Homo sapiens: one gene and its partners. The protein of the gene in region 2 purifies or fractionates together with the protein of the main gene of each other region. This does not show direct contact. Each region holds a gene or a part of one and is shown on either strand. Other genes may lie near its edges. The genes, in order: ITPR3, TAFA4, SEZ6L2 and LRP11.

Region 1 (7,000 bases), on a different chromosome or scaffold from region 2:
TGCCCAGGTGAAAATGGCCTATGTGAACTTCGTGAACCACTGCTACGTGGACACGGAGGTGGAGATGAAGGAGATCTACACCAGCAACCACATCTGGACGCTCTTTGAGAACTTCACCCTGGACATGGCCCGGGTCTGTCCCTGTGAGGGGTGTGGGTGAAGCCCCCCAGGAGGTGTGGGAGTGGAGGGGCCCCATGTGAGGAGCCCCCAGCCATCCCTCTCTCCTGCCTCAGGTCTGCAGCAAGCGTGAGAAGCGCGTGGCTGACCCCACCTTGGAGAAGTACGTGCTGAGCGTTGTGCTGGACACCATCAACGCCTTCTTCAGCTCCCCATTCTCTGAGAACAGCACTTCCCTGCAGGTGAGCTTCTCCTCTCCCACCACCCCAGGGCCGACTTGCCTAGCTTTTGTGAAGGGAAGGGGGGAAATAAGAATACATATTTATATTTGCTTATAGTACAGAAAGAAGTAACAAAAGGATACATAAGTGTATTGGTTATCTTTTTTTTTTTTTTTTTTGAGATGGAGTTTCACTCTGTCGCCCAGGCTGGAGTGCAGTGGCGCGATCTCTGCTTACTGCAAGCTCTGCCTCCTGGGTTCACGCCATTCTCCTGCCTCAGCCTCCCGAGTAGCTGGGACTACAGGTGCCCGCCACCACGCCCAGCTAATTTTTGCATTTTTAGTAGAGACAGGGTTTCACCGTGTTAGCCAGGATGGTCTCAATCTCCTGACCTCATGATCCGCCCACCTCGGCTTCCCAAAGTGCTGGGATTACAGGTGTGAACCACCGCGCCCGGCCTAAGTATATTAGTTATCTATACCGTGTTAACAAATTATCCCCAAACCTAGCAGTTAAAACAACAAGCATTCGCTATCTCAGTTTCTGTGGGCCAGAATGACGGTGGGAATGGTACCATCCAGCAGGAACTCCTAACTCCAGTGGGTGGGCGGATCCCGGAGTGGCAGCACTTATTCACCAAAGATAAGGCAGACGTGCCATCCATGGGATGGTACAGCCAAAGCAGGGATCACGACAGTCTCCCTGGCAGGATCCTTCGTGCTGGCTAGTTGATCATAGTGATCTTAGAACTGAAATAGGCAGGCAGCCTTCTGAAGGCCTAAGCAGAAGGGCTCCAGGCCAGTGTACAGAAGCCTGATTTGAATCTCGAAAGATTCATGGCTCCTTGGTCAATCCCCAGATTCCCAGACTCGAGCCAGTGCTCAGCCCAGAGCCCCCCTGAATGAAAGCGAGCCAGGTTCCCTTAAGGAAGGGCCCTGCTACATGACCGAAATCAAAGAAACACTGGAAGGATACAAAAGAAACCCACAAAAGGGGCTACCTAGGGGCATAGGAGCTGGGGTGGGGTGGGATCGTGCTTCTAAGTCTGGGGGGAAAAATGCTGAGTCCTGCCTTCTCAGGAAGGGTGGTGTATTTTGACACACATTGTTTGGGCCCTGGGATCGCATTGGGACGATGGAACTCTGGTAATTGATATCAGCTTTCCCCATCCTTGATCAGCTCCAGGGCAATGAGGGTGATGGGGGAGAGACTTCTCAAAGTGTTATGTTTTTTTTTTTTGAGACGGAGTCTCACTTGGTGCCCCAGGCTAGAGTGCAGTAGCACAACCTTGGCTCACTTGCAACCCCTGCCTCCCAGGTTCAAGCAATTCTCCAGCCTCAGCCTCCTGAGTAGCTGGGATTATAGGCACCCGCCACCACGCCCGGCTAATTTTTGTATTTTTAGTAGAGACAGGGTTTCACCATGTTGGCCAGGCTGGTCTCGAACTCCTGACCGCAAGTCATCCACCCACCTTGGCCTCCCAAAGTGCTGACATTACACGTGTGAGCCACTGCGCCCAGCCTCAAAGTGTTATCTTTTAAATAACCTTTTGGTTTTTCAACCATGTAAATCCATCACCTTTTTATGACATTAATTTTTTTAAACATTTTTTAAAAGGGTCAGCAACATGGCTATGAGCCCACGGCCTTGGTGAGTTACAGGGCTGCCGTGTACAGTTGGGCAGGTCGTGCACTGCTGAAGGGAATACAAGTACCTTTTTCCAACTGGCACAGAGGCACATGGTGGCTAGTGAAGGCTCCGTCTCTCCACCCATGCCCATTCTGATTGGGCCCTGGTTCCTGGACCTGGGGTTGCCCAGGGTGGGGGCCTGGGCTGCAGCAGCGGGCTCTGTGACTTCTTGCAGACACACCAGACGATTGTGGTGCAGCTGCTGCAGTCTACCACACGCCTCCTCGAGTGTCCGTGGCTACAGCAGCAGCACAAGGGCTCCGTGGAGGCCTGCATCCGGACCCTCGCCATGGTGGGTGAGTGTGCCGGGGCACTGGCCAGCCCCAAACCACTCCTCCTGCCGCTCACAGTGGGGACGCCTGCCCTCCTAATAAACACTTTATCCCTAAGCTCGCCCATCTCCTGCTCCCAGGTGGTTGTCAGTAAGTTCTTCTTGGCGTCTGCCTCATCCTGGCAATTGAGAGAAGCTGTTTTCTCCTCTGGGTCAGTTCCCCAGAGAAGGATGCTCGCCGACATTCTCCAGCTAGTTTTTTATGGGTATTTGCAGATGGGCTCAGGCAGGAGCAGGCCTGTGGATTGTTAGGGACAGTTGGGGAAGAAGAGAGGACAGGTGAGAGAGAGGAAGGGGAAGTCAGGGTAGAGCCGGGGGGAATCAAAGAGGCAGAAACTCCTTTTACCCAACAAGGGGAAGAAAGCCTCTCAGTCCCTCAAGCATAGGCCGGGGTGGGGGGGGTCTCTGTCTCCCAGACCCTTGGTCTAGTTCACTCTGTCTCCTGGTGTGGCAGCCCTGAGCCTGGCCTCTGGCTGGCTGAACTGCCCCCGCACCAGCACTCCAGCACTCCCTCCCTTCCCACCCAGCCAAGGGCCGGGCCATCTTGCTGCCCATGGACCTGGATGCCCACATCAGCTCGATGCTCAGCAGTGGAGCCAGCTGTGCAGCTGCCGCCCAGCGGAACGCCTCCAGCTACAAGGCAACCACGCGGGCCTTCCCCCGCGTCACCCCCACCGCCAACCAGTGGGACTACAAGAACATCATTGAGAAGCTGCAGGTGGGTGTGGGGCTGCCTGGCATCTGCCTCGGGAGCTGCTTGGTTGAGTCAGCAGCTCCCCTACTTTGGAGGGGCAAGTTCTCGGGGAGTGTTTCTTCCTGTCCTGCCCACACTTCCAGGAAGGGGCTGGTTGGCTTCTCTACACTCTGGGGCTGCTAAGGGCCGACCCAGCAGCAAGGGACTGGGGAACCTCCTTCCAGAGGAAGCCTGGAGAACCCAGAGGCCTGCTAGTGGGGTTGGAGCTCATGAGGGGGTCGGGACCACCCCTCACTCCTGCAGCGCCCTCCTGTCTATGCAGCACATTTCTGTGCGCTGTCTCGTTGGCCTGTAGAGGGGGTGTGGTGGATTATTTTCCCCACGTGGCAGGAGACTGAGGCTCAGAGAGGCTAAGGGGTTTGCCCAAGGTCACACAGAGCTGGGAGAGAAGCCAGGCTTGGCAGCTCCCAGCCAGGGCTCTGAGCAGACAGACATCACGCTGTGTTCAGGGTGTCTCTGTGGGTGTGGGCCCCTCAGACAGAGGCAGGGCAATCTGTGGGGCTGTTTGGCGTTTGGGTCGGAGGAATGGCAGTCACACCCGGGTCATTTCTTGGGCCTGGCAATGACTCTGCCCTGCCCACCCCAGGACATCATCACAGCCCTGGAGGAGCGGCTGAAGCCCCTGGTACAGGCTGAGCTGTCCGTGCTGGTGGATGTCCTGCACTGGCCTGAGCTGCTCTTCCTGGAGGGCAGTGAGGCCTACCAGCGCTGCGAGAGTGGGGGCTTCCTGTCCAAGTGAGCGAGACACTGGGGCATGGGGGCAGCAGGGGTGCAGCGGCAGGGGACAGAGAAGGGCCCGGTGGGGACTAGACAGGCTCACTGGGTCAGAGGGCCTGGGGGTGTTCCTGCCTGGGATGGGGTGGGGAAGTAGCTGGAGGGAGGCAGTGTGGGGCTGCCCTGAGCTGCCTCCTTGGCCGGCTCAGGCTGATCCAGCACACCAAGGACCTCATGGAGTCGGAGGAGAAGCTGTGCATCAAGGTGCTGCGGACCCTGCAGCAGATGCTGCTCAAGAAGACCAAGTACGGGGACCGGGTGAGTGCCCTGGTGGGGCAAGTGCTGGGTGGGCCAGTCAGGAGTACCCAGGGGCTCAGGGTCAAGCCCGTCAGGCCAGTGGTCAGTGGTGGGCTGTACCCACAATGGGGCCTCACTCCCATCCTCCCCCAGGGCAACCAGCTGCGCAAGATGCTGCTGCAAAACTACCTCCAGAACCGGAAGTCCACCTCGCGGGGGGACCTTCCCGACCCCATAGGCACTGGTCAGTATCACCTTCCCCTGCCCCCGGGCCCTCCCTTCCACTCTCCTGTCACACCAGCTCTCCCTCAACCGAGTCCCGCCTCCAGGCCTGGACCCAGACTGGTCGGCAATCGCAGCCACCCAGTGCCGGCTGGACAAGGAGGGGGCCACCAAGTTGGTATGCGACCTCATCACCAGCACCAAGAACGAGAAGATCTTCCAGGAGAGCATCGGCCTGGCCATCCACCTGCTGGATGGTGGCAACACAGAGATCCAGGTGTGGGGGGCCTGGGGCCTGGACATGCCCTCCTTTGCCTCCCTCCCTTTTTGGAGGAGGTGGGCCTTGAGTTGGGCACTGAAGGCCGAGGAGGGTGTGAAAGAGGAGAGGCCTGAGCAGTGGCTGAGAGGTGAGAAGAGTGGGCATGATGGGGGCAGGGTGGTGAGGAGACGGGCTCAGGCCTGGCTGGGGCAGAGGGGTATGCGGGGGTGATGAAAGGACCACGTGACACAGGAGCAGATATGGGGCATGGAGCCGCCCATGGGTGGCCATGGATGCTAGCCACCAGCACCCAGGCCTGCAGCCAGGCCCCTGCAGCCCCAGCGGCCCCAGCAGTGTGGTGTGCCTGCCCCACGCCCTGAGTAGGAGCAGGGCCCAGTGCTGAGGTTGTTCCCTGGCCACTGTCCACCTCCAGAAATCCTTCCACAACCTGATGATGAGTGACAAGAAGTCAGAGCGCTTCTTCAAGGTGCTGCACGACCGCATGAAGCGGGCCCAGCAGGAGACCAAGTCCACGGTGGCAGTCAACATGAATGACCTGGGCAGCCAGCCACATGAGGACCGCGAGCCAGTCGACCCCACCACCAAAGGTCAGGGGTCTGAGGCAGAGGCACGGCGTGACGGGGATCCCAGGATAAGATGTGCAGGGGGGTGGCCAAGGGGGTGGGCAGCTCCAGCCTCACCAGGTCTCGCCCACAGGCCGCGTGGCCTCCTTCTCGATACCTGGCTCCTCATCCCGCTACTCGCTGGGCCCCAGCCTGCGCCGGGGGCACGAGGTGAGCGAACGTGTGCAGAGCAGTGAGATGGGCACATCCGTGCTCATCATGCAGCCCATCCTGCGCTTTCTGCAGCTGCTGTGTGAGAACCACAACCGGGACCTGCAGGTGAGTGCCTCGCCACACACCTGCCCCTTCCCCCGCTGGCCAGCCGGCATGCAGACTAGGCAGTGTGGCTGGTGTCCCTCTATGGCAGGTGTGCCCTGCCCTGGGCACTGCTGCTTTGTGGCTGGTGGTTCCCCTACCCCTGCAGCACACAAGATCGTGCTTCCCAGGCCAGCCTCCCTCTCCGTGCTGTAGCTGTGCTGTGCCCAACCCTTCTGTGCCCCGCAGAACTTCCTGCGCTGTCAGAACAACAAAACCAACTACAACTTGGTATGCGAGACGCTGCAGTTCCTGGACATCATGTGCGGCAGCACCACGGGCGGCCTGGGGCTGCTGGGGCTCTACATCAATGAGGACAACGTGGGCCTCGTCATCCAGACCTTGGAGACCCTCACTGAGTACTGCCAGGGCCCCTGCCATGAGAACCAGGTGAGCTGTCCTGGTGGCATAAGTGGCAGCCAGGGTGGCAGTGTGGACATGTGGGTAGATGGAGCCAGCTGGGGCAGGGAGAGAGGCTGAGGTCTCTGGAGCTGCCACTATTCTGAGAGGGCCTGGGCCCTGTGTCCCCCACTGCCTCCTGCCAGACTTGCATTGTGACTCACGAGTCCAATGGCATAGACATCATCACCGCACTGATCCTCAATGACATCAGCCCCCTGTGCAAGTACCGCATGGATCTGGTGCTGCAGCTCAAGGTGGGGCCCAGTGGCAGGTGTGTGAGTGCTGGGTGTGCATGTGATGTGCATGCATGTATGTGTGACTTGTGTGTCAAGTGTACATAGTGGTGTGTAATGTGGGTGTTAGCATTGTGTGATGGGGCATCATCTGGATGCACAAGTGTGTGGTGTGTGCAGGGTGTGTGTGTAATATACGCATGTTTAAGCATGCTGGAACATACACTCACTCTGGATGCAAATATATTCTGGTTTAGCTGAGGACTTGCTATGTGTGTGTCTGCTGTCTGGGTAGCTGAGTGTTTGCCACAGCGGGGGTGAAGGCAAGCCTATGGGTGGGCTGGCTGTGCAGGATGCTTCTCATTAAGCCGGGGGGAGGGAGGATGGGAAGGTCATGGCACCTGACCTTTTGTTGGATGGGAGAGCTGTTATGGAGAGGAATGAGGGAGAAGTTGTCAGGGGCATGGTGTCCTGAGACTGTGGCCTGCCTCCCTCTGCCCCTCCACCCAGGACAATGCCTCCAAGCTGCTCCTGGCTCTGATGGAGAGCCGGCATGACAGTGAAAATGCTGAGCGAATCCTCATCAGCCTGCGGCCCCAGGAGCTGGTGAGGCTGGGCAGGTGGGCAGGCGGGCGGAACCAGGTGGAGTGTGTTGGGATGGGGATGAGGGCCCGGCTGGCCCTACCGCCCTAGGAAGAGAGCATTGGAACAGGCACTGCCCCTCCAGGTGGACGTCATCAAGAAGGCCTACCTGCAGGAGGAAGAGCGTGAGAACTCGGAGGTGAGCCCACGTGAAGTGGGCCATAACATCTATATCCTGGCG
Region 2 (7,276 bases):
AAAGCTAGAAAGCTGGGGTAAATAAAAAAAAGTTAGAAAACAGTGCTTTGAAAATTTCAAAGACAAATGTAAAGGAATAGACAGATGCTTTAAAAACATTTAAATTTATTTTTATATATTTAGGAGGCACAAGGGCAGGTTTCTTACGTGGACATGTTGCATGGTGGTGAAGTCTGGGCTTATCGTGTACCCATCACTTGAATAGTGAACACTGTACCCAACGGGGAATTTTTTAGCCCTCACCCCGCTCCCACCCTCCCACATTTTGTAGTCTTCAATGCCTATTATTCTACATAGTATGTCCATGTGTACCCAGACAGAGGCTTTTTGCTTTTTCTCTGTTCTTTCTTCACTTGTTTCACTGTTCAACCACTCGAACACAGAGCTGACAGTAAGCGAGACTGTTTCAAGGCATAAGTCGGCCATTTAAAGGTGGTTTCAACCACGGGCATATTAGCCTTTTTGGAGTGTCAGTTTTCTCATCTGTAACATGGAGATTATAATAAGAGAATTTACCTTGTATTTACCTTTACTTATATTTACATGGATTATAAAGATGATAATCCGTGTGAAGTACATAGTATAGTGAGCCACACACAAGCCTCCAATTAAGTCAGCTATCATTCTTATTAGTCTCCTCAGAAAAATTACTAAGTGCAAAATTGTGTTGCAAATTTTTAAAACTGAAGCTTCGCTAGAAACAAGAGGATTTTTTAAACAGGCCCAGGAGAGTCAGAACGTTCCTTTCAGGCATAGTCAGTCATCAGCACGTATTGATTAAGCACCAGGACATGCCAGTAGTGTTCTGGATGTTATACAAATGAGGAAAGTAAACACAATGTCCAAGTCACGTGGTGTCACTACCTACAAATACAGAGGCACATCCAGGGGTGTTTTGTGAATGTGTGGTGTGTGCAAAATACCGTTGGCGTGACCTTCACAGGTTCTTACATAAGAAAATAAATCATTTGACCCCATTTTTAGGAAACAGATGTTGATTGATTTTACACAACCTCAAAGGATGCAAAATGGGTCGCAAAGAGAGAGAGAAAGAATGTTACCGAATGAATGACAGGAATGTTTTCTTGTAAGAGGAACTACTGTCTCTGCCTGGAACAATTTTTGCCCAGATATTCGCTTGGATGGCTTTTTGTCAGTTAGGTCTTGACTCAAACGTCACTACCTCATAGGGACCTTCTCTAGGCAGCCAATCTAAATTAAACCCATCCTCATATCCTTCTAATGCTCTAGCCTTCTTTTATTTTCTTTTAGCACTTATTGTGCTCTGAAATGACCTTATTCATATATTTGTTGAATTATTTACTGTCCAACCTTCCCCACAAGAATACACGCAACTCACATGTGCCTTGTTTGTCACCATATCCTAGAGCCTGGCTCACAGCAGGCGCTTGATAAATAGCTGAATGAGGAAACAATTGGATAATTGGGGCTTAGTGGCTATTTCTTTTTTTTTTTTTTAATATAGCTTGCCTTTTTTGTGGTGATTTGGTTAGTAAATCTCAATTTATCAGATCATTCTGGCTTCTTGCTACTGCACAAGAGACATCAGGTCATTGGAAACTTACAGATGAGTCCCTTAACTGTACTATCTTACTTTAGAAACAAACACACTTTTATGCTTGTATGAATTTGCTAGGGCTGCCATACAAATACCACAAACTAGGTGGCTTAAACAACAGAAATTTCTTGTCTTACAGTTCTGGAGGCTAGAAGTCCAAGGTTAAGGTGTTAGCAGGGTTGGTTCCTTCTGAGGGCTGCAAAGAATTTGTTACACGCCTCTCTTCTCCCTAGGTGGTTTGCTGGCAATCTTTGGCATTCCTTAGCTTGTGGAAGTATCACTCCATCTCTGTCCTGATTTCTACATGGTGTTCTTCCTGTGTGCATGTCTGTCTCCAAATTTCCCCATTTTATAAGGACACAGTCATACTGGATTCGGGCTCATTCTAAAGACCTCATTTAATTTAATTCCATAAAGACCCTATCTCCAAATAATGTCACATTCTGTGGTACTGGGGGTTATGACTTAAACATATAAATTTTAGGGAGACAAATTTGAACCTCTAACAGTACTGAACATCCAGGATGGAAGAACATGGTATTAGGTTGAGCCAAACACAGTTGCTTACGTTTTGGTTTTCCTCACCAGGACAAGAAACCCCCAGTGCAGGAAAATTGGAGACATGGAAAACAGGGCTTAAGTAAACACGCAGATCTTTGCCAGAACCATGTTTGTCACACAGTGTGGAAGCAACGAATATCTGGTGAACAAATGAATGTGGACTTGTTCTTCTAAATGACTTGCTCCCTCACTTCTTCCAAGTCTTGGTTCAGATATTACCTTCTCAGTGGGAACTAGCCTAACTACTGTTCTTAAAACCACCATCTCCCCAGTACTCACCTTCTTTTCTGTTACTTTCTTTCTCTCTATAACACTGACCACTTTCTATCAAACTCTGTAATTCACTTATTTGTCATGTTAATTGCCCATCTCTCCCTACTAGAAGATAAGTTCCATGAACTCAGGAACTTTTCACTGTTGTGTTTCCTTCTCTATGTACCAGCACTTGTTACAGCGCCTGACACAGAGTAGGCCCTCAGTTTTGCTGAGTGAGTGAATGAATGAATGAATGCTGTTGAGAAAGAGCTCTGGAATCTCCTGGCATGCTATTTCAGGTTTTGCTTGGATCTCCCCTTTGGCCGTCACAGAACTTCAATGCTAGTCTTTAAAGGAAATCTCAAAGATCAAGCGCCTATCTCCAAAGCTTGAATTCTCTCTTAAACTGGTGACATCTTGATAACAAATTGCCTTTGAATGTAGAACCCCCATTTTAATAATAAGAGAGTAAGAGATTGAAACTGTTTAACAAGTAAAATGTGCTATGGTATGTGTGGTACGGGGAACAGAAGCAGAAGGCCTGCCATACGTTAGTTCAAGGGGTAGAGTCAGAGAAGGGTGAACATACTTTGGAGTGCAGCAGGGGCAGGATGGCACATAATTGTATGTCAATGCAGAGTAAAAGGACCAGAAGATGATAAGCCAAGCCAATGACAGTGAGCAGCATAGTGGTACAGAGCAACGTTTTCTAACTTTATGCATGCACCAGCCACTTGGGCATCTTGTTAAAATGAAGATTCTACTTCTGGGGTGGGGCCTGAAAGTCTGCAGTTCTAAAGTGTTCTCAAGGGACCGCTCTACGACGCCATGCTTTGCATACTAAAGAGCATGGATTTACTAGTTACCTGTGTAATCTTCAGTAAACGATTTAACTTCTCTGTGCTTCAGTTATCTCATCTATAAAATAGAGATCAGATGAACTAATCCCAGTAAAATGAATACCATTAAGTGACACTGATTATCAGTTACTTCACTTGCGGAAGAGTGGAGGGCATGACTAGGAATGGGGTGGGAGGAGGGAGTCAAAGAAGTCTTAGCTGAATTTTTTTTTTTTTTTTTTTTTTTTTTGAGACGAAGTCTCGCTCTGTCGACCAGGCTGGAGTGCAGTGGTGCGATCTCGGCTCACTGCAAGCTCCGCCTCCCCGGTTCACGCCATTCTCCTGCCTCAGCCTCCCGAGTAGCTGGGACTACAAGCACCCGCCACCACGCCTGGCTAATTTTTGTATTTTTAGTAGAGACGGGGTTTCACCGTGTTAGTCAGGATGGTCTCGATCTCCCGACCTCATGATCCACCCGCCTCAGCCTCCCAAAGTGCTGGGATTACAGGCGTGAGCAACCGAGCCCGGCCCCAGCTGTATTTTATACATTAAAAAAGAAAAGTATTTAGGTATTCATACGTGGGCCGAGTTTTCTCCTCTCTCATACAAGCACATTACACGCGAAGCCAGATTAGTTCATGAATGTGCTACTGCACGGGGTGGCTAAGAAATCCTGCTTGCAAACCGCTTTGGGTCCTGCGTGGAGAATGGTTTCGAGTGAGAGCCGAACCCTAAATCCGTCTTCCTTATGTGGAGCTCAACGCGACTCTCAGGTATTCAGGAAGAATACCTTTTGCTCAGCACCTGCGGAGTGGTGGCCACAGCGAGGCGCTCGGGAGAGGCGCCTGGAGGCCGGCAGTGGGGGCGCGCCGCCTGAGCAGGGGTGCGGGGCGGGGAGAAGGCCGGCCCACGTGGACCGCGGGGCCAGGCAGGGACAGGAGCAGCCGGGCGGCCCGGCCAATCAGCGCGTTCCGCGGCGGGCCCGGCCCCTCCTGGTCAGCGCGCTAGCTGGGCTCGGCTCCGCACTGCTAGCTGCGCGCCGCCCTGGACGGGGCGCACCGACTGCGCGCGCGGCTGCGGGCAAACATCGGGAGTCCTGCCTCAGCTGCCGCTTCTCCAGCAGCAGCTTCAGGCTTCTCCCGCAGGAGCTTCGGGCTTCTCCTGGTAGAGACGTGGGAACTTTTCTTCTCCTGGCGAGGCTGCAGAGGTGATGGGCCGCTCCCGGGGCTCCCGCGGGGAGGCGGCACGGTGAGCGTCCTCGGGCTCCGGTGCGGCGATCAGTACCTAGTTCCGGACGCGCCGGTCCGACTTGGATGCCGGCTCTAGTCGAGTAAGAAGGGTTGGAAGGGATAAGGAGGGGCGAGAGGATGGGGTGGGGGTGGATTTGGACCCTGTATTTAGGTGCTGTCTCGTGGGCAGCCGCTGCCTCTCGGCTGGTACCGAGTTAACTCAGCTCGGTGCAGCTCCCCTCATCCCGGCTCTCTGGGGCGCCGGGGAGAGTGCCTGTGCTGAGGTCGGCGTGCAACCCGAAGTTGGAAGGGGCACTCCGAAGTAAGGATGTGTGGCTGGAGAGAGGCAGCGGCCGCTTCCAGTTTCGGGGTTCATGTCTGACAGAATCCCCGGGGGTGCTCTGCTGATGCGGAGGAGGCCACTCGATGAATTGGTATAGGGGGTGGTGAACTCACCGTGAGCTCTTTTCTGGACAAGTCGACCTTAGCGCTTCATCCCTTTAATCTGAGCTAGGATCTTTCTAGGAGCAAGCAGGTGGGAGCCGGTCAGCGTCCCCCCGCCCCCACCCCCACCCTGAAGCTCTGGTTGCTAGGATCTTGCTTGAAGGGCGCAGCGAGCGCTCGGGAGGCGTCTTCCAGCTGGGAGCGCAAAGCTTCCCGCCCAAGTGGAGAACTGGAGCGGGTCTGGAAGTTGCGTCTCTTTCCGCGGGAGGCATCTCAGATTTGCCCACCAAGGTGGCATCTCTACATTTCTTTCGCTCTTTTTCCCACTTTGCCCTGTTAATCCGCTCCTAGAAGAGAGGGCATCCTTGACCCTACGCAAGGAGCTCGGGAGAGGATTGGAACTGGAAAGCTTGATCTCCTGCACCTGGTGAGGCTGCCCAAGCCAGACACAGTGCCGCTGGTGCGTTTTCTTCTCGAATCAGCATCATTTAACGTTTAGGGGCTCCACGGAGCCTTAGTAAAGCTGTGAATCAGCTCCTAAGCAGTATGTACATGCACGGGTTCACGGACTCGCCGAGACCTAGCCTGGTGCCCATCCCCCGTCACCGAGATTCAGGGACCCCCCTTTGGTTTAACGTCTTTATCCCTGAACTCTTTTCCCTTTTAACTTTTCAATGGTCTTCCCTCTGAGACAAGCAAGGTTGATGTGATGTGACAGGCGATCCCCGTGTGTGGGGATGGGCGCCTTCGAAGCTTTGGTCTGTTTCTGTCTCTAATATCCTTGGCATAAAGCTTGTCCACCATAACTCGTAGCTGCCACCTGCAGACTCGGTCACCCAAACTTGTGCACACTGATGGCCTAGCTTCCTAATCACACGCATCTTCGTTTGGCCCCCTCTAGAACACTCGCTGAGGAGGGAAGAGGTGGGGGCAGTTTGTGTCAGAGCCCAGTTCAGGAAGGCCTTGGATTTTTTTAAAGGCTAAAATAATTTAGGAACAGCCATTTTGCAATATAATTAGTGTTACCACTCAGTCACTGAGAACAAATGTATGACTTGAAGAATTCTTCAATAGCTCGCGTGGGTTTTATAGTGAGAAGAATTTCTGCTAAGTTTATAGTCATATCAGTGTGAAAGCCCAACACTTCCTCTAGATGGGAAATACAGGCCTTAATAAGGTAGTGTGAGAGCAGTTTTCAGAATCATTATGACGAATGATGACTTGTGTCCTCCCAAAATGACCGAGTGAGTTGGCATGGCTCATTTGTGGAAGAAGCTTTCTTCATATGCACGGACATTTCTTAATCAATATTCTCATAGCAGAAAGCCGTATTTCAAGGTTCCCTTCCTAAGTTCTTCTGTCTCATTGTTCTGCTTTGCGTGACTTTGCTTTCATCCCTCAGTACCATCTTAACTGCCCTTTGACACTTTAAAATTTATTATAAGGCTTCAAGTCACAATTTGACTTGGCCACTTTTCCCTGCTAAAGATAAGTAAGTTGTCCTGTCCAGAAAAGCAGTGGCTGCCAATTTCTCTATCTTTGAATGACTTTAATTGTATTACTTGTTCCCTTAGCACATACAAAAACCCCTACAAATATCTCTGCTTGATTATTGGATATTTTTCATTGAAGGCAACCATTTTTATATTTCTAGTACTAGAATATCCTAGGTCACTTGAATTTCAATATTCATTTTCTGATCTTTTTAGACATGTGTATTGTTTGATGACCTAGTTCCATTTAGTAATTAAAAAAGAAAAAGAAGAAACTCCTTTGCTCCCCGCTACCACCTCCTTTTCAGTGGTACCTAGCCTTTTCCTAATAGCTGCTTTTTTTCTGCACCACTCATTTATTGTTACACTTAATATAATACTTTGCTATGTAAATGGCATGTTGATGCATGTGATATTAAAACTGCATTCACTGGGGATTAACCATTGGATATGACATCATCAGCAGCCAATCCTTGATCTGATTTGAACATGCATTGACAAAAGTCATATTATCATATTGAGCAAGTGATTCTATATTGCCTGTGATGAATAAGGGAAAGAAGGAAGTCTTTTTGGCACTTACTAACTCTCCGTTAGCTGCCCAGTTTGAGAGTTTTGGGTATTTCTATACTAAGAGGCTTAGCTTAATAATAACATTCTCAGATTGCAATTTTATAGATCTCTTTAGAATTTGCATAAGTAGATTTTCCCCCTTGTGCTTTCTTCCTCTTTGCGAGTTTTTCACCCTGTGTTCTGGCTCTGTTTCTTTACAAATATGTAAAGACATCACAGTAAATGGACTAATCTTTTGCTTTTATTTTTTGTCCTAGAGATAGCCACGTAGGTGATGGGCTAATTTGAGTACATGAGTTCATT
Region 3 (7,028 bases), on a different chromosome or scaffold from region 2:
GATTGCGCCATTGCACTCCAGCCTGGGTGACAAGAGCGAAACTCCATCTCAAAAAAAAAAAAAAAAGGAAAAAAATGAGACAGGGCCTTGCTCTGTCACCTAGGCTGGAGCGTGCAATGGTGGGATCACAACTCACAGCAGCCTTGACCTCCTGAGCTCAAGCGATCCTCCTGCCTCAGCCTCCCAAGCAGCTGGGACCACAAGTGTGCACCACCACACCTGGCTAATTTTTTGTTTTGTTTTGTTTTGTAGAGACAAAGGTCTTGCTATGTTGCCCAGGCTGGTCTCCAACTCCCAGGCTCAAGTGATCCTCCCATCTTAACCTCCCAAAGTGCTGGGATTACAGGCGTTAGCCATTGTGCCTGGCCACAGTGAAGAATCTTAAACTCATAGAATAGCAGTGGCCTACAACTCTGGAGTCAGGACTCACAACTTGCTATTTTCGGTAAAAGATCTGTGCTGTTTGCACTTTAACACTCCCAGAATCTATCCCGCAATTCATTTTTGCAGATCCACTGTTCTATTTCACTGTTACTTAACCTGCAAGGTATCATGTCCAAATCCTACCCATCCATCACAGCCGAGTGCCAATTCCATTTCTCCCATGATTCATATCAAACACTAGACCCTCCTATCTCTAAGCATTTCATCTTTTTGGTCTCTCTCTTGCTACTGTTTATACAACTCCTCTGTTTCAGCCACAATGAAATTCTGTTTCCCAGACATACCAGGCATTTCCCTACTTGCTGTTTCTCAAAGTTCCTCTCTTTCCTTTTCTTTTCTTTTCTTCTTTTTTTTTGACAGGGTCTTGCTCTGTTGCCCAGGCTGGAGCACAGTGGTGCAATCATAGCTCACTGCAACCTCTGGGGTTCAAGTGGGGTTCAAGTGATCCTCCCACCTCAACCTTCCATGTAGCTGGGACTAGAGGTGTGTGCCACCACACCTGGATAATTATTACTTTTTTTTAATTTGTAGACACAGGATCTCACTATGTTGCTCAGACTGGTTCTCAAACTCCTGGCCTCAAACAATCATCCCACCTTGGCCTCCCAAAGTACTGGGATTAGAGACACGAGTCACCACAACTGGCCTCAATCTTCCTCTTTTAAAATATCCTCTGTTGGCTGGGCAGGGTGGCTCACGCCTGTAATCCTAGCACTTTGAGAGGCCGAGGTGGGAGGATCACTTCAGCTCAGTAGTTGGAGACCAGCCTGGGCAACATAGTGAGATGCTGTCTCTACAAAAAATGTAAAAATTACCCAGGCATGGTGCCGAACGCTTGTGGTCCCAGCTACTAGGGAGGCTGAGGCAGGAGGATCACTTGAGCCCAGGAGGTTGAGGTTGCAGTGAACCATGATCGGGCCACCGCACTACGGCCTGGGCGACAAAGCAAGACCTATTTCAATAATAATAATAATAATAATAAAATACCCTCTATCCTTTAAGGCCAAGGTGAAATGCCTCTTCCTCCATGATCACTTCCTTGTTTCTACCCCTTCACATTCATTCCTCTTCTTCTGGTAACGGCATCCCAATTTTAATTTTGGGACGCAGGCCTTCCCCACTCCCAGTCCACTAGGTTAAGTTGGAGCCCACCAGGGAAGGCCACGTGAGGCAGATTAGCCAATCCCAATACTCCCTTCTCCTAGCTCAGTGATTGGCTCAGGCTAAGGCCAACCAGGATCTTAGTCAGGTCAATGAACGCCTCTCCTGGCATTTTTGCTGAGCTCTCAGGAAATATATGAGTGTTCTCTCTGATGAGGTTACTCGGTTGGTGGTATGGGCTGGAGGAGGTGGCTTACACCTGTAATCCTGGCACTTTGGGAGTCCCACATGGGCGAATCACTTGAGCCCAGGAGTTCAAGACCAGCCTGGGCAACATGGTGAAACCCCGTCTCTACTAAAAACCCAAAAATTAGCTGGGCGTGGTGATGCATGCCTGTAATCCCAGCTACTCGGGAGGCTAAGGAATGAGAATCGCTTGAACCTGGAGGAGGGGGGCTGCAGTGAGCTGAGATCGCGCCACTGCACTCCAGCCTGGGCGACAGAGAGGAACTCTGTCTCAAAATAAATAAATAAATAAAAATAAATAAAAACTAAAAACTGTCAGGCGCAGTGGCTCACGCCTGTAATCCCAACACTTTGGGAGGCGGAGGCGGGCAGATCACCTGAGTTCGGGAGTTCCAGACCAGCCTGACCAACGTGGAGAAACCCCATTTTTACTAAAAATACAAAATTAGCTGGGCATGGTGGCGCATGCCTGTAATCCCAGCTACTCGGGAGGCTGAGGCAGGAAAATCGCTTGAACCCGGGAGGCAGAGGTTGCGGTGAGCCGAGATCATGACATTGCACCCCAGCCTGGGCAACAAGAGCAAAACTCCGTCTCAAAATAAATAAAGGCCGGGCGCGGTGGCTCACTCCTGTAATCCCAGCACTTTGGGCGGCCGAGGCAGGCGGATCACAAGGTCAGGAGATCGAGTCCATCTTGGCTAACACGGTGAAACCCCGTCTCTACTAAAAATACAAAAAAATTAGTCGGGCGCGGTGGCGGGTGCCTGTAGCCCCAGCTACTCGGGAGGCTGAGGCAGGAGAATGGCGTGAACCCGGAAGGCGGAGCTTGCAGTGAGCCAAGATGGCGCCACTGCATTCCAGCCTGGGTGACAGAGCGAGACTCGTCTCAAAAAATAAATAAATAAATAAATAAAATAAAAATTAAGTTGGTGGTATGTAAGTCGGCAGCTATGTCCATCACACAGGGAAAGTGCCTAAGGATGAAGCCAGCACAGAGGAAAGAACCGAGATACTGAGATAACTGGTCTCTGGGCTATGTACCTGGATCCAGACATTCATGAAGCTTAAACAGAGAAGGCTGCCTGGGGGAAGGAGAAGGGGTCCCTAGAAGAGATCCTTGCAGTTTTGGGGCAGGGAAGCGAGTCACGTTTCAAGGAACCCAGCACGGAGATGAACAGGCATAGAGTTTGTGCTTCCGACTATGCTTGGTGTCAGGAAGAGGGGAAGGTGTGGCGGTTGGGGTCCTGTGGGGGAGTGGGTCACTTACCTTCAAATCGAAGGCTTAACAGCAGGGGATTGGCAGGTGTCTCTGACAGCAGCTCCACGTAGAGGGACTGGGCGTCACTGATGAGACCCCGCTCGGGGACATCGTCCATGTCCGAATCATAGATCACGGGGGATAGGGGGCTGCCCCCTGAGCGCACCATCAGCCTGGGATGGACAGAAACGTGACCAGGAGCTCAATCTCCCTCACAAGCTGCCTCACCCCTTGCCTGCTTTCCTAACTTATTTTTATAGCTGTTATCATCACACATAACTATATGCCACGCACTCTTCTAAGCCCTTACACATTCTATCTCATTTAATTTTCACAAGAACTCTTGAGTCAGACACTATTATTATCCTTTATTTTATAGATGAGGATATTAGGGCATAGAAAGATCAAGTAACCTGTCCAAGGTCACAGAGCAAGTAGTGGCAGGGCTGAGATACCAAGTTGCTAGGTAAAGGATGATAATGATGATGAAGATAGCAGATGCTTGACCAGGCATGGTGGCTCAGCTCACACCTGTCATCCCAGCACTTTGGGAAGCCAAGACGGGTGGATCACCTGAAGTCAAGGAGTTCAAGACCAGGCTGGCCAACATGGTAAAACCCCATGTTTACTAAAAATACAAAAATTAGCCAGGCATGGTGGTGCATGCCTATAATCCCAGCTACTCAGGAGGCTGAGGCAGGAGAATTGCTTGCATCTGGGAGGTGGAGGTTGCAGTGAGCTGAATCCGTGCCACTGCACTCCAGCCTGGGTGACAGAGCGAAAGTCTGTCTCCAAAAATAAATAAATAGATAAATAAGGCCAGGTGCAGTGGTTCATGCCTGTAATCCTAGCACTTTGGGAGGCTGAGGTGGGTGGATCACGAGGTCAGGAGATCGAGACCATCCTGGCTAACACGGTGAAACCCCAACTCTACTAAAAAAAAAAGTACAAAAAATTAGCCGGACGTGGTGGCACACGCTTGTAGTCCCAGCTACTCGGGAGGCTAAGGCAGGAGAATAGCTTGAGCCTGGGAGACAGAGGTTGTAGTGAGCCGAGATCGCACCACTGCACTCCAGCCTGGGCGACAGGGTGAGACTCCATCTTAAAAAAAAAAAAAAAAGAGGATAGCAGACACTTTTATAGTGCTTATTGTCCCAGGTGCCATTCTAAGGACTTTATATAATTTCAGCACTTATCCTCACAGAAACCTGAAGAGGGAAGTATTGTTATCTCCATTCTACAGATGAGGAAACTGAGGCACAAAGAAGTTAAGTGATTTGTCTAAGGTTTCACAGCTACACTTCCTAAGAAAGTCTTAGGACTGGCTGGGTGTGGTGGCTCACGCCTATAATTCCAGCACTTTGGGAGGCCAAGGTGGGCAGATCACCTGAGGTTGGGAGTTTGAGACCAGCCTGACCAACATGGAGAAACTCCATCTCTACTAAAAATGCAAAATTAGCTGGGCATGGTGGTGCATGCCTGTAATCCCAACTAATCAGGAGGCTGAGGCAGGAGAATCACTTGAACCCGGGAGGCAGAGGTTGCGGTAAGCCAAGACTGCGGCACTGCACTCCAGCCTGGGCAACAAGAGTGAAACTCTGTCTCAAAAAAAGAAAAAAAAAAAAAAAAAGGCTTAGGACTAAGCTGTGATGCATATCTCAACCAGGATCCACCCCAGCTGTGTCCAAGTCCCCACTTAGCCTCCCTACTTCCCTGAGGTGGGGACTTCTTTTTTTTTTTTTGAGACGGAGTCTCATTCTGTCTCCCAGGATGGAGTGCAGTGGTGCGATCTTGGCTCACTGCAAGCTCTGCCTCCCGGGTTCACGCCATTCTCCTGCCTCAGCCTCCCGAGTAGCTGGGACTACAGGTGCCCACCACCATGCCCGGCTAATTTTTTTTTTTTTTTTTTGTATTTTTAGTAGAGATGGGGTTTCACCGTGTTAGCCAGGATGGACTCGATCTCCTGACCTTGTGATCCGCCTGCTTCGGCCTCCCAAAGTACTGGGATTACAGGCATGAGCCACCATGCCCGGCCAAGGTGGGGACTTCTGACCCAAGACCCAGACCCTTACCGGTCATTGTCCTCATCCAGCGAGACCCTTTCAAAGTGCAGGTGCAGCCGGCGCCCCTCAGCTGCTTCAATGACCCAACGGCAGGTGAGGTTGGGCCCTACGGCTCCCCCAGGCTCTGGGGACACGATGCGGCCCAGGGTGGCATTGTGGATGGTGCCACCACAGGATGCTGTGGGCAGAGGAGGGGTACGTTAAGGCCAGCCTGAGGTGAACTGTCCTTCTCCTCGGGGCCTCGGCCCGTTTTCAGAACTGTTGCATTCACACATTTGGCTGGGACCCGGCCCAGGGCTGGCCTCTGTCCCATGGAGTCACTCCAGAGGATGGGACCTTCTCCAGGCATGAGCCAGGAAAGAAACCAGCCCCGGTACGGGAGAACCCCAGGATTGACACCTCCTAGGATGGAGACACCACTAAAATGAAGACTCTCCAACTGCGGATACTCTAGGATGGGGAGTTACAAGGATCCCTAAAATTCAAAGCCTCAGCTGGGAAATCTTCAGGACAGGACTTTCAGAGTGAAGACACCACGGGATGGGAATCCCAGTAAGAGGCTCTCTAGGATAGAAGCCCTCTGGACATGAACCCTAAAAATGGCTTCCTCTAGGATGAGGACGCTACCCCAGAAGGGACCTCCAGAATGGTGACTCCCAAAATAAAATCTCCAGTGGGACACCCCGAGATGGAGACCACCCAAGGATGGAGAAACCCCAAGGAGAGAGACCCTCCGCACAAAGAGCTCTGGCTGCAGACCCCAGGATGGGGACTCCTCAGGGTAAACACCCCTTCAGAATGGGTTTTCCCCAAAGGTGGACACCTGGACACCCCCGAGATAGGACCCTCCCAATGGGGTTCCCAGAACAGATGCCCCACCCACTGTGGCAGGAGACTCACCCATGCAGCTGGGGGTTTCACCGTTCCAGGATGGCCGGGTGCCATTGAGGCAGATGAGGGTCTCCTCTCCCTGCAGCTGGTAGCCCGAATCACAGTGAAAGGTGGCAGTGCCCCCAGGGTGCAGGTCCGTCACACTCACGTCCCCATGGGCCGGCCGGGGAGGGAAGCCACAGCTCAGGAGGTAGGCTGCACCAGACAGACAGCGGGTAGCAGGGCTCACTTTCCCATGCCACCCTCTCATACTGATCCCCCAGCACTTCCCCCCTCTCCTTTCAGGCCAACCTTCCAGGGGCACACACTGGCTCCATACTGGCGTACATACCGAGAAATAAGAGCTCCTCACACAGGCACCTTGCCTCGCGAACAGGAAACTCCAACACCCCTTATCTCCCCCACTCATTGTAATTCACCCTCGTTGGCCCCCATTTTATAGATGAGGTATCTGAGGTTCAAACAAGTTATTCTGGACCCCGCTACTCATTTGTTGTGTGACTTCAGGCAAATCAATGAACTACTCTGAACTTCATCCAGCTGTAATAACAGTATTTGCAGAGCTTGTTCAGCTCCCAAAGTGAGTCCACACAGAGATTTTGAGGTCAGCAGACAAAGATTATGTGACCTGGCTAGGCATGCTGGCTCACGCCTGTAATCCCAGCACTTTTGGAGGCCGAGGCAGGTGGATCACGAAGTCAGGAGTTCGAGACCAGCCTGGCCAACATGGTAAAACCCCGTCTCTAAAAAATACGAAAATTAGCCAGGCGTGGTGGTGGGTGCCTGTAATCCCAGCTACTTGGTAGGCTGAGGCAGGAGAATCACTTGAACCCAGGAGGCAGAGGTTGCAGTGAGCCGAGATCGTCCCATTGCACTCCAGCCTGGGCGACAAGAGCAAAACTCTGTCTCAAAAAAAAAAAGATTATGTGACCTGTTTTGCAGGTGTGAACACTGAGGCTCCAAGTTATTAAATGTCTCTTTTGATTTTTCTTCCCTCCACACACACAGCCTTTCTTCCACCAAGG
Region 4 (7,998 bases), on a different chromosome or scaffold from region 2:
GGGACCTCAGGAAGTCTGAGCACAGCAGTGTTCTCCCAGAAATGAGGACCAGCACCGCGCTCGCCTATTTTCATCCCAAACATCTACAAAACAATTCCTAGACAAACTCCCCTGGGGAAAGGAAGGGCAACGAAGCAAGCAAGAGGAAAAACAACCCAGAAACTTCTCATAGTAACCTGAAGTTTTTGTTTCTGTTTCTGAGGCAGTGTCTCCCTCTGTTGCCCAGGCTGGAGTGCAGTGGCGCAATCTGTACTCACTGCGACCTCCACCACCACAGTTCAAGCGATTCTCCTGCCTCAGCCGCCCGAGGAGCTGGGATCATAGACAGGCGCCACCATGCCAGGATAATTTTTGTGTTTATTTCTTTTTAGCAAAGACGGGTTTTGTCATGTTGGCCAGGCTGGTCTCTAACTCTTGGCCTCAAGTGATTCACCCGCCTTGGCCTCCCAAAGTCCTGGGGTTAGTTATGAGCCACCGTGCCTGGCGTCTCCAAGTAATCTAAACTTTAAAATTTTTGTTCTATGGCATATTCTTTCCTTGTTTATTTTCCTTTTCAAAGGTTTCCTCTGGGTTTATAGGAAAGCTCACTTTGGCAATGTCAGTTTCTTCCAGGTAAGTAGTGAGAACACAGAGAAAAGACTTTGTTTCTTTGCTGCTGGGATATTTTGGTCTGTGTTTGGGCAGAGAGGATGTGTGTGCAACAGCCGTGGTGGGCCTCAGAGATGCTGATGGGGGGTCCAAGTGAAAGTGCTGCCTGCCTCCACTTCAGAAGGAAAGCTATGGAGTCCTTCCCAGTGTTTGCCTCAAGGCCAAGCAGTCGCAGGGTGACCCTTTGATATCTGCTCCCCTGACAAGGATTCTGAGCCTCATCTAAGGTAGAGGTGGGGAGGGAGGCAGGATGTGATGGACACAGATTTCCAGACTCTTTCAATGGATCCACAGGTTTTGGAGAATCCACACTTCCAAAGGGGCTGAGCTCCGCCCCCATCTTGCTGATATCATTCGTGCTATTATAAATCAAACAGCAACAGGGCATGATTAAACACACGGAGCCTGACCACACGTGGGCACAATCAAGGTCTCTTATTCCCTCCGTGACATTCATGTCCAACCACTACCATTTTTGTGCCTCCTGTATGTGTCCTGATTCTCTCATTCAGAGCATCTACAAAAAGTCAAACCGTCGAATCAGCATCATTTTTAGTCCTTAAGAAACACGCTTTAAAGTTTCCTATTTTCTTTTCCTTTTTTTTTTTTTTTTTTTAAGATGGAGTTTCGCTCTTGTTGCCCAGGCTGGAGTGCAATGGCGCGATCTCGGCTCACTGCAACCTCCGCCTCCTAGGTTCAAGCGATTCTCCTGCCTCAGCCTCCCGAATAGCTGGGATTACAGGCGCATGCCACCAGCTCTGGCTAATTTTTGTATTTTTAGTAGAGATGGGGTTTCATCACATTGGTCAGGCAGGTCTCAAACTCCTGACCTCAGGTGATCCGCCCTCCTCGGCCTCCCAAAGTGCTGGGATTACAGGCATAAGCCACCACGCCCGGCCTTAAAGTTTCTTATTTTCAACGAAAATCAAGTCCCCTCTTTTCACTTTTTATAAAAGGGACCAGAAGTTTTCCTCCCATTTTTGTATGATGAAAGCCACCGCAGGCAAAGTCAGGAGAGCCACGTCAAGAAAAAGGAGTGGGTGTTACGAGAAGCCCGGCATCTAATTAGATTTTGCTCTTGCAATTACTTAACACAAACCATGCCTTATACAACCCATGAGACTAAAACAAACTTTTTTCTCTCAGCATTTCTCCCCTTTTAAGTCATATTTCCACGAATCCTCTCAGATCAGCCTTTCTCTTCAAGCCTAGAAAAATTCCAGTAGCACGTCACCGCGCCCGCCCGCCCGCTTCTGCCAAACTACTGGGCTTCCTCTTCCCTAAGACAGAGAAACCCATGCCAGAAACTCTTCTGGGTGCCCGCGGCTAAAATAACTTGGCACGAGTGTGTTTCGCTTCCAACTTGGCGAGGGCGCTGCGGGTCTCGAGCGCTCTGGCCAAGGCCGGCCCCTCAGTCGCGCGCTTACCCTGCCGGGGCGAGGCGCGCGCGGTGGCCAGGGCGGCGCCGTCCGGCGCGCGGCTGAGGCTGTAGCTGCTGTAGCCGCTGTGCAGCGCGAACTTGCAGACGTTGCGGCCGCGCGCCGTGCAGTTGAAGAGGTAGCAGCCGAGCACGGCTGCCGGGGGCGCGGGGCGCCGGGGCAGCTCCACCACGGCCACGGAGCAGCGCGGCTCGGAGCAGCAGGCCGCCACGCATTGCCGCCAGCCCCGCACGGCCGCCGGCGCCCGCAGGAAGCTGGCACCCGCCGCCAGGGAGTCCTTGGTGCGGATGATGGCGTCAGGCATTGCGCTGTAGCCGCCGCTGCCCGGGCCCGGGCAGTCCTCCTGGGGGCCGCCGCCCGCGCGCAGCTCCAGCTCCAGCTCCTCCTGAGGCCGCTCCTGCTGCAGTTGCCGGCGGAACTCCTCCAGCAGCTGCTCCACGCCCGACAGCTGCGCGTGCAGTTCGGACAGCGGCGCCGCGGGCGGCAAGGCCGCACGGCCGCTTGGCAGCCACAGGCAGAGCAGTAGCAGCCCGCGCAGCGCCCCGTGACGCGGCGGTAGCCGGCGCTGCGAGCCCGCGCTCTCCTGGGCGACGGAGGCCATGGCGACGAGAGCCAAGGGCAGCGAGCCGAGGCGGGGCTGAGCGCGGGAGGAAGGCGGGGACGCGGGCGAGCGCGGGCCCTGGGCCCCTCCTGCGCGGCCGCGGCTGGCTCTAGGCCCCGGCCTCACAGCGCGGCGCCCCCGAACCCGGCTGCTCCCCCGAGGTCGCGGGCGCCGGCGGGAACCGCAGTAGCGGGAGACATAGCCGGCCCAGCCGGGCACCGCTCCTTGCCCTCGCCGGAGACTGCCCAGCGCCCTGCGCCTCTCCGCCCCGGCCTGCGGCGCGCTGGGTGGCGACGAGTCGGCCTCGGCGTTGATCAGCACCAGGTGTGTGCGAACAGTGGCCGCGGCGGGGTGGAGCCTTGGTGAGCCCCGCCCCCCCGCGCGGCCCCGCCCCCGCGCGTCTCGCGCCGGCTCCTCCAGGGCTGGGAGAGCAGGCCCCGGGGAGGGCAGCCTCAGAACAACTTTGCTCCCGCGCCGCTGCCCAGCTAGGGCAGGGTTCATGTCTGGGCCCAGCAGGCTTTAGCAACCAACCACACCTGCCCAGGGCGCCTGCCCACAGGGGCTTGGCATTCGGGGGAATGGGGGCAGTGGGAAGGGAGGGCCTGTCTTCAAATCCTCGTGACCCCCGGGACTACTCCAGAGAGGGGGCACGCGCACCTAGGACCACCGTAGCGCGTCATCAGTCCTTCACCTCCAGCGTCCCTGACTTTCCGCATCATGTTCCCAAGATGTGCTTGGGTAGTACAAAGTGGGGCGGGGTTGGGGTGGCGGAGTCAGGGCCGGGAGGGGTGGGGATGGGAAGTACTGAAAGATGTTCAGTCTGTTTAAAAACACAAAAATCAAGCCTGGTGAGGTGGTACTCGCCTGTAAGTCCTGAGGCTGAGTTGGGAGGATGGCTTGGACCCAGGAGTTCGAGACTGCAATGAGCTGTGATCACACCACTGTACTCCAGCCTGGGGGACAGAACAAGACCCTGTCTTTAAAAATAAAAACAAAACCCATAAATAGCAGTCGTCACATGCACTCAGATTTCCACAAATATAACAAAAAATCTGAACACAGCCAACATGGGGACCTGGGAGTAATACAGCCTGTGACAGAGAGGCCTCTAGCGGTTATATCACGTAAAATCTCGGGAGTTGTGCTTTAAATGACATAAGGAATAAGAAAATGTCCAACCCAGTGGGGGCTTCACCTTGGCGTTCTAGACTTCTGTGAGCAGCATCTGCATCTTGTTTGTTTCTGAATCAGTTTCTGTTGATTCATTTTTCTCCTGATTGTGGATCGCATTTTCTTGCTTTTTAGCCTGTCCGGAAATTTTTGCCTGGATGCGCACATTGTAAATAGAACACTGTTAAGTGTCTGTATTTTTTAGGATTGAAAGAATAAATAATTGGTGGGAAAATATCAGTCTCTGCTATGTGTTTATTATCTCCAGAGTTGACATTTAGGAACCCATTGCTTGCAGATCCAGATCAGAGTAGGAGGTAAAATTAAAAGGTAGCAATAGAAAAGAAAGAAAAAAGCTCAATGTTACTTGCCATTCCATCAAAGGGAGAAATTATAAAGTTTTTGCAGGGGTATATTTGAGTGATTTTTGAGGCTAAAAGAAATGGCCTCTTAGCTCTAAAGGCTGTGTCTGGACTGTACCACTTCGGCCTGGAGATTCTTCCTCATATGGCATACTCATCCCACACAACTGCAGTCATTGTAAGATGACCTTGAAGCAACATAATGCTTTTTATTTTTTATTTTTATTTTTTGCCATAGACCTTGGAGAGCTTGAGCAGGATTGTTATGAGGAGAAACTTTCACTAGTGATGAAAATGCTGACTGAGGGTATCATCAAACCCTCCAAGGACTAGTTGTTATATAAGTTATTAATATTAAAAATAACATGATAATATATAATATTAACTAAGAATTGTACATGATTTCAAAGTTTGCCAAACACTTTCACATACATGATTTTATGTGCCTTCACAGAGACTTTGACCACCTCACTCCTGCCTTTGGGACCGTGAAAGAGAAGTCAGTATAGAGTGAGCCCTAGCTCACATGTTCCGTGGTAGGGAAGTGGACAGGGGAGAGGACAGCATTTCTCAGGGGCATTCATTTCTAAATCCCTCCAGCACCATCAAAGATTTTCCTGCATCTGCAACTTTACAATAGGTCTTTTTGGGAGAAGTGGAAATTATTTAATGTTGTGTTTACCGTGAGCAGTGGTTATTTCTGGGCTGTGAGTTGCAAGTACTGAAGGGGAAATACTGACTTTTATAATTTATAAGACTTTGTTGAATTTTTTTTTTGCAATGAGCTTGTTGTAAATGATTTTCTATTTTTTAAAAATAAGTGTTGACATCTGCTTCAGCCAGGAGGGAGCAACAAGGACTGGACTTACTCTGTGACCTGAAATGAAAAATCTGTGAAAAAAATGTATGGAACAATGGTTTTCAGACATTGGGCAACAGGCAATGCAGGGCCCAAGAGAAGGGAGACAAAGGAAGTGAACATGCTGCTTGCTCCAGCTTACTGCCTGGAGAGGGTTTCCAAGCCGCAATGCAGACAGGCGAACCAAAAGAGACTCTGAGTTGGAAAATAGAGCTGAGAATTCAGGGAGGCCAGGGTGGCTAGAGTACCAGAGAGGAGAGAGTGCAACGGAAGGAGGGAGCTCTGGAGATCTGTGCAGGGTTCCTCTGAGTCTTCAGCAGAAGTTCGACCAGGTACATGCATGTGAGGAAACTTCCCAAGACAGAGAGGCAACCACTAGAAAAAAGCTGGCAGAAAAACTTCTGAGCTTGCATTGGCCAGGCAATAGTTCGTTCCCAACAGCCAGAGTGGAGAAACCTTGTGACAAGAGGCATGAGTTTGAGTAGGAAGGGAAGGGATTACAGAGAAGCACATGAAAACTTTTGCAGGTGATAGGTGTGTTCATTACCTTGATTGTGGTGATGGTTTCACTGGTGAATACATTGATCAAAGTTCATCAAATTGTGTATTTTAAGTGGGTATAGTCAATTATATGTTAATAAGGCTATTTTTTAAAAACGAAGTTTCATTGCACTGTGCATTGTGATTTATCTTCTTTTTCTAGTTCTCTTTTCAGTTTTTTTCAGAAATAAACTATCTTTGTTTTAAAAGCCTAAACATCAAAACCTTATCAATGGATAGAAGAATTTTTATGTGAGGATGAAAATGTCAGGAAGATGTGTTTCTGTTTTATAAGATAGATCATTAAGAGTAAGAGTGGATCAAATTGAGATTGGACTTCGTAGGTCAGTTTGTTGAATGTTGGAATGAGATAACCTGTGTCTTAGCTGGGCTGCTGTAACAGAATACCACAGACTGGGAGGCTTCTAAACAACAGAAATTTATTCCTCACAATTCTAGTGGCTGAGAAGTTCAAGATCATGGTGCTGGCAGACGCTGATATCTGGTGAGGGCCCACTTCCTGGTTCATAGACAGCAGTCTTCTCACTGAGTCCTCACCTTGTGGGAGGAGTTAGGGAGCTCTCTGGGATTTTTTTCTTTTCTTTTCTTTTCTTTTTTGAGACAAAGTCTCGCTCTGTTGCCCAGGCTGGAGTTCAGAGGCACAATCTCTGCTTACTGCAACCTCTGCCTCCTGGGTTCAAACGATTCTTCTGCCTCAGCCTCCTGAGTGGCTGGGATTACAGGCGCACACCACCACGCCTGGCTAATTTTTGTATTTTTAGTAGAGACTGGGTTTCACCATGTTGGTCAGGCTGGTCTCGAACTCATGACCTTATGATCTGGCTGCCTCAGCCTCCCAAAGTGCTATGATTTCAGGCATGAGGCACCGTGCCTGGCCTGGGATCTTTTTTATAAGAACACTAATCCCATTCATGAGGGCTCCACCTTCATGCCCTAATCATCTTCCAAATTCTCCACTGCAAACATCATCACATTAGGTTTCAACATAGGAATTTTGGGGGGTTACAAACATCCAATCTACAGCAACACCCTAGTGACATCGTTTTTTGTTGCCCTCCCCTCCCCTCTACTGCCCATCTAAGTACTTTTACAGGCATCGAATAAGTTAAGTCAGTGCATGTGAAGTGCTTAGAAGGGCATCTGACACATTATAGAAGTTCAATAAATGCTAGTTGTTGTTGTTATTACAACAGAAATGAAGGACCTTTCCTAAGATTAGAAGTCATGAAACCACTTGAAGCCTGAATCTCCTCTACAACATCCCAGCTGAGTGGCTGTTGCACTAAGATTCTTCCTTCTCCATACCCCTTTCATGGAATCTGCTCTGCTCACGTCCCTGGAAGGGGCAGCCCCAACCCCCAGGTGGCCACACCCCCTGTTCACTAGGGATGGAATCAATAATGAATGCCTGGCCCAAGCACAGCCAATCAGATACTCTCTCCAAGGAATGTAAAAACAGAATTGAGAAACAAACTGACTCAGCAAATCAACTCAACAAACTGACTCAACAAATTGAGTCAGGGAGGGAAGTGTAGCTGGGAAGCCAGGTGAGCTCCAGGGGACATGGAAGGGGATGATAGCAGAGAGAAGCTGTTCAGCAGAGGGGGACAAATGGAACCGTGAAAAGAGGAAATAGAGAACAGTGCATACATAGCCTTGAGAGAGGGAGGGAGTGAAGACAGGAGTTGCCTGACACTTTCTGGTCTCAAATCTCTCCCCTGAGCACCTACTTGGCCTTCTACCTGGAATTCCTCTCATGGAGTTCTTGCCTTGCAGCTCAGTGATCTAGGTTCATCCTAGTTAAATCTCTGTGGATTGCAAACAACAGAAACTCATTTTAGATTGGTTTAAAGAAAAAATAGCTACCGTGTTTACACACATGCACTCACAGGCAGGGAGGAAATGCAGCCAGGCCTTGGGAGGGCCTGGACCAGACATGGCAGAACCCTCAGCAGTCAAGCAGCTGGTCTCCCAGTTGCTGCTTCTCTCTTCTGGGACCAAGTAGTCTGAGATCTCCACTTCTCTCTGCACATCTGATTCATGCTTCTCTCAGAGTCTGGAGTTTTCTGCCCTCCATGCACAGAGCCTGAGTCTATCTCACCTCACCTGCAGCAATGAACAGAAACTCAGAACAGTGACCATCAGTACCAAGAGAGAGACTCTGATGAGTCTAGCTTGGTCCTGTGTCCACCCTAAACTGAGGTTAGTGTGCAGAGACCATGAGGCACAAACAGGGCTACAAACATGGCCTTCCCTCTCCTCATTGAGGATGGAAAGAGAGGCCGTTCTTAGAGGAAGGACGTGGTAGTAACTGGGGAAAATCCTGAGAAGTTGTCTTCTGCGTTGACTCAGGCAATG

The links.
Region 1: the proteins of TAFA4 (region 2) and ITPR3 purify together in Homo sapiens (affinity purification with mass spectrometry; 2 studies listed by BioGRID and IntAct, with this or other methods). This does not show direct contact.
Region 3: the proteins of TAFA4 (region 2) and SEZ6L2 purify together in Homo sapiens (affinity purification with mass spectrometry; 2 studies listed by BioGRID and IntAct, with this or other methods). This does not show direct contact.
Region 4: the proteins of TAFA4 (region 2) and LRP11 purify together in Homo sapiens (affinity purification with mass spectrometry; 2 studies listed by BioGRID and IntAct, with this or other methods). This does not show direct contact.

The regions. Positions count from the first base shown.
Region 1 is NC_000006.12:33,680,322-33,687,321, forward strand, and holds part of ITPR3 (inositol 1,4,5-trisphosphate-gated calcium channel ITPR3), read left to right. Parts: intron 1-7; coding exon 8-133; intron 134-233; coding exon 234-359; intron 360-2,202; coding exon 2,203-2,323; intron 2,324-2,885; coding exon 2,886-3,076; intron 3,077-3,698; coding exon 3,699-3,847; intron 3,848-4,035; coding exon 4,036-4,144; intron 4,145-4,276; coding exon 4,277-4,367; intron 4,368-4,452; coding exon 4,453-4,622; intron 4,623-5,037; coding exon 5,038-5,212; intron 5,213-5,321; coding exon 5,322-5,506; intron 5,507-5,731; coding exon 5,732-5,932; intron 5,933-6,087; coding exon 6,088-6,198; intron 6,199-6,687; coding exon 6,688-6,783; intron 6,784-6,904; coding exon 6,905-7,000.
Region 2 is NC_000003.12:68,929,528-68,936,803, reverse strand, and holds the start of TAFA4 (chemokine-like protein TAFA-4 precursor), read left to right. Parts: upstream 1-4,256; 5' UTR 4,257-4,564; intron 4,565-7,276. UniProt on the Homo sapiens protein: Modulates injury-induced and chemical pain hypersensitivity. Ligand of FPR1, can chemoattract macrophages, promote phagocytosis and increase ROS release.
Region 3 is NC_000016.10:29,882,528-29,889,555, forward strand, and holds part of SEZ6L2 (seizure 6-like protein 2 isoform 5 precursor), read right to left. Parts: intron 6,199-7,028; coding exon 6,013-6,198; intron 5,291-6,012; coding exon 5,122-5,290; intron 3,223-5,121; coding exon 3,059-3,222; intron 1-3,058. UniProt on the Homo sapiens protein: May contribute to specialized endoplasmic reticulum functions in neurons.
Region 4 is NC_000006.12:149,861,333-149,869,330, forward strand, and holds the start of LRP11 (low-density lipoprotein receptor-related protein 11 isoform 1 precursor), read right to left. Parts: upstream 3,028-7,998; 5' UTR 2,689-3,027; coding exon 2,076-2,688; intron 1-2,075.